2 separate regions of the Homo sapiens genome follow, and region 2 is linked to region 1. The links come from fine-mapping of genetic effects on gene expression. A gene starts in region 1. The other region holds a variant in brackets. All regions are shown on one strand. Distances are between the middles of the regions.

Region 1 (2,912 bases):
ATCAGGGCTGCCATTGACCTCAACTAACGCCAGGGGCTTCTGACTGCAGCCGAGCTCTGGTGGAAAGGCCGATGCCGGCCTGAGAGTGGGAAACGTGGGGCCGGGAGCCGGGGGCTTCCGCGCGGCGTGGCGTGGCGTGGCGTGGCGTGGCGCCCTCAGGGCCGTTACGCGATTTTCGCTCCCGCGGGCAGCGCCTCTCAGGCCACTCCCGAGGGACCCCGAGGACGCACTCGGGCCCCAGGGCGACGGTTCAAACGGGCCATTGTGCGCCCCCGGGGTCCCCCGGCCCCTGCAGGGCTACTTGGGCGCAGAGCCGCGGAGGGTCTCCGTTCCTAGAGGTCCTCCTATCCCGGGCTGCCTGAGTCCTCGCCAGCATCCGCCCTCTCCCACTCCCATCCTTCCTGGATCCGCCTCTCGGTTCCCGAGGGACAGTCCCGACCGCAAACCCACGTAGAGTAAGGAATGTGGGACAGGCGACAGAAGTGGCATACGGTCCTGCGTTATCCCTCCGTCTCGCCACACCTTGTGTCTCCATCTCTCCCCACTTCCTTCCCTCCGTCTGTCATCTGTCATCCCCGGTCGCTCTAAGACCAGGATTCCAATTCGCCTAGTGAGGAATCTCACTAGGGGAATTTATCGCGACATCATAAATTAACGGGTTCATTTTGACTGAAAAAGCGAAGGACTTTTTTCAGGCAGAAAACAAGTCTCGTCTGGACGGTAAGGACTAGCTTTAGCAATTATATAATGGGGGGTGGGGAGGACCTTTTGTATAAATTTAATGAGCTGATGAGAAAGTTCTACGGTTTTGACAAAAAAGTCCACCTAAATATTCGACTGTATGCCAGAAATTACTACACGTTTAGATATCAACTAAAAATATACAAAGGATACACGGTGTTTTCAGAACCCTTTCAAGCGGTTCTTAAACAAAAAAGTCTAGTCCGATGCCCATTAGCGCCGCCCCCATCCCACCTCTTACCTCCCACCGAGCCCAGCGGGTGGGCAGGAGGGGCCTGATTTGGGGACCAGGAAGGAGGAAGGAAGGGTGGGGGCGGGGGACGGGGAAAGTGACGGGAGCAGTGAGAGCCGGAAATGAGTGGCTAGCGAGGCACCCAGGAGCGCCCTGTCCGGCGGCGCTCTAGCCCTCGCGCACTGTCTCTATGCTCCCCAGCGTCTAGTCTATTTATTGTCGCGGGGAAGCTGCGGCCGCCTCGCACCCGGAACAACAAAGCAAGGAAGACGGAGTCCGAGCCTCGGGGGCTCCTAGCAACGGGCCGGGGCGGGAGTTCCATGGAGACTGGGGAGCGCGCCCGTCTCATCCTCATCCTTGTCCTCCAGCTTCTCCTTCGCATCCGACGCAACCGGCAGCAGCGCTGCCGCCGCGTCCTCAGCCACCGCTCCCTCTTCCCACGGTAACCCCCTAGGCGACCCTGGGCACAGGGAGCGCGGGCGGCTGAGCGGCCTGAGCACCGGGTGCGGGGCGTCTGGGCGCGGGGTGGGCATGTGCGGAGCCCGGGCCAGACTTGGGGTGGGATGTGTGGGGGCGGGCGACTGGAGGGCAGCCGCTGAGGTGGGGGAAACCGGTCCGGTGGCCGAGGGAGGGCTCAGTTCTGAAGAGGACCGGGCGATATTTGGGGATCTCTTTAGGGATAACGGGTTGGGGGTGGGGCGTCCGTACCTGGGAGCGTTACCGAGCCTGGTGTAGGATAAGAAAAGAAGGGTTATCTTTCGTTTAAGCCACCACTGGGAAAGACGGGGAAAAGAGATTCCTCATCTGTCTCGGAGCCATCACCCAGGGGAAGAGGGACCGTGCAAAGATGCTAGGGGTCCGTTGCTTCTCAGAAAACTTACAGCGGCTTCTCTAATAGCTCCCAAAAAGCGGCTTCGTCGGTTTCTGATTCTGGCAATGCCGGCAGCCTCGCTTTATTTTATTATTATTTTTGACCAAAATTAGGATTGATGGAGAAGGATCTAGAACTGAAGAAGAGAAAATGAATTGTGGGTAGGGCTAAGCAGGGATGAGAGTCGGGATAAGTGATAAAAATAGCCAATAAAAGCCCTAAAAGTAAATCTAATAGGGCATGAGGGCTTAAAAAGAAAATCTCTCCTGCCGAGATGTGCATCTGCAGGCTCTGTCAATGTGCTCATTGCAATAAGACTCAAACTGCAGTCAATCCACATCTGTGAGCTCTCTGACTGCATCTGTCACCTGCAGTTCCAAAGCGACACTGGCAGTAAGTGCATGAGCTTCTGTATTTAGGGTTTAGAACAGTGCCTTAAAACTGTGACTTAAGAAAAGGGAGCAGGTTTGCGTGTGTGTGTGTAAGCAATGTGGATTCTCTGGGAAAATATAAAAAGAGACATAAGAAGGTTCAGCCATCCTGGCATAATTTCGCAGTCTCTTTGAGAAAATGGCAGTTCCTTCCTATTGAGAAGTGACTGTTAGCACTATCTGGTTGAAAGGATTATTCACAGTTTGGTATGCCCAGTGAAATATCAGTTTATGTTACCTCTTTAGTCTTACATCACAAGCTGCTTAATGGTTTTATACTTTACAAAATCATTTTGGGTGAGTAAATGAGGTTTTCCTGTAGCACAATGAAAAGGCCACATATACATACAAAGTTCTTTATGTAAAGTTGAAGATTAAAGATGAAAATAAAATTGATAAATCATAGGAGCAATTAGGTCAACCACAGCTTCTGTTTGTTCCCCACCCCTTTTGTTAAACCTGACTTCTCCTAAGCAAAAAGGTGTCATCCTTTCCCCAGCCTCCTCTTTACGTACCCTCTGCCCTCAAAATCAGTATCAGAAACTCTAGTGACCTATTACTATGTGCCCTTGATTGGGCTGGCTTGTTCCTGAATGAGGGCTAGCCAGAATATAGCTTCAACTCAGGCGTTTTCATC
Region 2 (2,912 bases), 110 kb after region 1:
ATCTCTCTCAGTCCGATTGCCATGACCCTTGGATGGAGGGCATTAACAAAAAGCTGTTCAATGATTAAACCTTTCCTTGAGATTAACCTGCCTTTGATACCATGAAGTCAGAAAAAGTTGCTTGATCATACATGACAACAAGCAGTAGTTATTGGGTTGGGAACTCTGGTCTGCTTTCATTACATGTCCCTTGTTTGCCAGACAATAAGGAGGGCACTGCACAGAAAATGACTACTTTCCAAGTTTAAATAATCTGAATAACTCAGGGAAAATCTGGAGCAGAAAGCTTACTGAAATGCGAAACCTTGTGCTCAGCTTCTGAAGATGAACTCATTATATTTCAGCTCAGGTGGACATGTTAGAGCTTGTCACGGGCTTTTATTTTCTTCTAGGCTGCCCAGGATCAGAAGATCCTTCCTGTGTTGGGAATCCCCCTCTGCAAGGAAGAACCTGTCTCCTAAACAGAAGCTGGAAAGGCCTGATACTCCCTTTTCTCTTAGGACCAGGCTCTGCCAAGCAGTTCATGCACCCTGGATTTTGCATCAGAAGCTGTAGCACAAAGTAGCAGGATCTACAGGCCCCACCTTCCAGTGAGGATGGTGGCAGTGGCTCTGGCCAAAATATTTAATGTCAGAGTTGCTAGATATACACTGTTAGGTATGTGCTCAGGGGTGGCTAGATTAGCTCAAAGCAGGATTTGGGGAGTTATTCTTGACTACAGTTTCCAAGTTGGAGTTGGTTTCTGTTGCTTTAAACCAAGAACTAGGAATGACACCAGACTCAACTAGATAAGTCCTTTTTCATGTGTGCAGAAGCAGATTAATCAGGAAGCTAATGAAGTTTAAGCTGCAGGGCCCCTCACCCACACCAGCCCTTCCAAGACCCTGGGAGGCACCCAGCAATGCATTTATATAATGATATGTTTTGTAAAATTTGCTAAAATGAAATAACTGCAATCAGTTAAGACCACTAATGCTTTGCACCTGGCCAGCAACATCTTGTTTCCTTTGTGTCATGTGACATAAGGGTGGCCATGGAATATTTGGGATCTGACTTAAGATCAGTGAAGTTAGAAAAAAAATTTTTTTTTGTATTTTTTTTTTTAGACAGAGTCTCACTCTGTCACTCAGGCTGGAGTGCAGTGGCACAATCTTGGCTCACTGCAACCTCTGCCTCCCGGGTTCAAGTGGTTCTCCTCCCTCAGCCTCCTGAGTAGCTGAGATTACAGGTGCACACCACCATGCCCAGCTAATTTTTTTTTTTTTTTGTATTTTTAGTAGAGATGAGGTTTCACCATGTTGGCCAGGCCATTCTCAAACTCCTGACCTCAAGTGATCCACCTGCCTCGGCCTCCCAAAGTGCTGGAATTACAAGCGTGAGCCACTGTACTGGGCCTGGTTTTGGTTTCTCATGGATAGTTCACAAGCACTTAACTAATATAGAGTTAAGCCCTCACTAGCTCTCTTGG[A/T]ATAGAAAAGACTTCCAGGAATTCTCTTGCTCCTCACTATGCCATCTCATGCCGTGCATATCCCACATTATCACTCACGTGGCACAAAGATGGAAAAGCACAGGGCTAGAGGCTATCTCTCAGTGTGAACTTGTCCTACAGCTCCCAGGGCCATGGCAGAGGGCCATGCTAGAGGACAGACTGGGTTCTTTTATTTTCTTTATATAGAAAGTAATGTCACAAAAAAATTGTGTTACAAAAAAAAGATCAAAATGTGTGCAATCAAAAAATGAAGGGAAAAAAGTATTATGGAAGTGTATCAGGTAATTCCTGGATTATGCAATTTTTGTAATGCTTGGCAGCTTTTTATCATTTGTAATTTACTGCCAGGCATGATAGCTCATGCCTGTAATCCCAGCACTTTGGGAGACCAAGACGGACAGATCGTTTGAGCCCAGGAGTTTGAAACCAGCCTGGACAATATGGTGAAACTCTTTCTCTACAAAAAATACAAAAATTAGCTAGGCATGGTGGCACATGTCTGTAGTCCCAGCTGCTTGGGAGGCTGAGGTAGGATTGCCTGAGCCTGGGAGGCAGAGTTTTCAGTGAGCTGAGCTCATGCCACTGAGCTGAGATCACACCACTGTACCTCAGCCTGGGTGGCAGAGCTAGATAGACCCTGTCTAAATTTTTTAAAAATTGTAATTTATCAAAATAAATATTCACCTTTTTTTTTTTTTTTTTTTGAGACAGAGTCTCACTCTGTCGCCCAGGCTGGAGTGCAGTGGTGTAATCTTGGCTTACTGCCAGCTCCCAGGTTCACGCCATTTTCCTGCCTCAGCCTCCCAAGTAGCTGGGACTGCAGTCACCCGCCACCATGCCCGGCCAAATTTTTGTATTTTTAGTAGAGACAGGGTTTCACCATGTTAGCCAGGATGGTCTCGATCTCCTGACCTCGTGATCCGCCCGCCTCGGCCTCCCAAAAAGCTGGGATTACAGGTGTGAGCCACTGCACCTGGCCTGTATTCTTATTTTTTAAAACAGAGCCCCCAAATTTTATAAACATCAGGCCCCACAAAACTTGGTTCTGCCCCTATGAATATGTTGGAGAAGTATAGTTCTTTCCAGATGACCATGTTTACTAAAAACCTTGTACCTCCATTCAGTCCTCCTCATCCCCATTACCACCCTCTAAATCCGGGCCACCTTATAATCTCCCACGGGAAGAGCTGCAATAGCCTCTAACAGGTCTTCCTGTGGGCATTCTTGCTTTCCTAAGCCCATTCTCCACAGTGGTGCCAAGATTTTTTCTAAAATCTAAATACTTAAATGGCTTTCAGTTGTTTTAAACTTTTCTCCAACTTCTAGTTGTTCTTAGGGTTGATCTAAATTTCTTCATGAGGCTTAAAATGCCCCACAGGGTCTTGCATGGGCTGATCCCTCCAGGTCCATCTCTTGCCACTTC

What was found.
Region 2: its variant is fine-mapped to the expression of TBPL1 in left ventricle (GTEx, PIP above 0.99).

What each region holds. Positions count from the first base shown.
Region 1 is chr6:133,952,011-133,954,922 of GRCh38, forward strand. It overlaps TBPL1 (TATA-box binding protein like 1), which reads left to right and starts at 1,214. Exons shown (of 7, transcript NM_004865.4): 1 at 1,214-1,415. LOC128092253 (umcharacterized LOC128092253) reads left to right here and starts at 1,294. Exons shown (of 2, transcript NM_001414965.1): 1 at 1,294-1,415. The coding sequence starts at 1,294. RefSeq lists a silencer at 212-321.
Region 2 is chr6:134,057,263-134,060,174 of GRCh38, forward strand. No RefSeq gene overlaps it. Among named protein-coding and RNA genes, the nearest start is that of SLC2A12, 6.1 kb to the left of the region's middle. The variant A/T (reference allele first, on the strand shown) is at 1,469.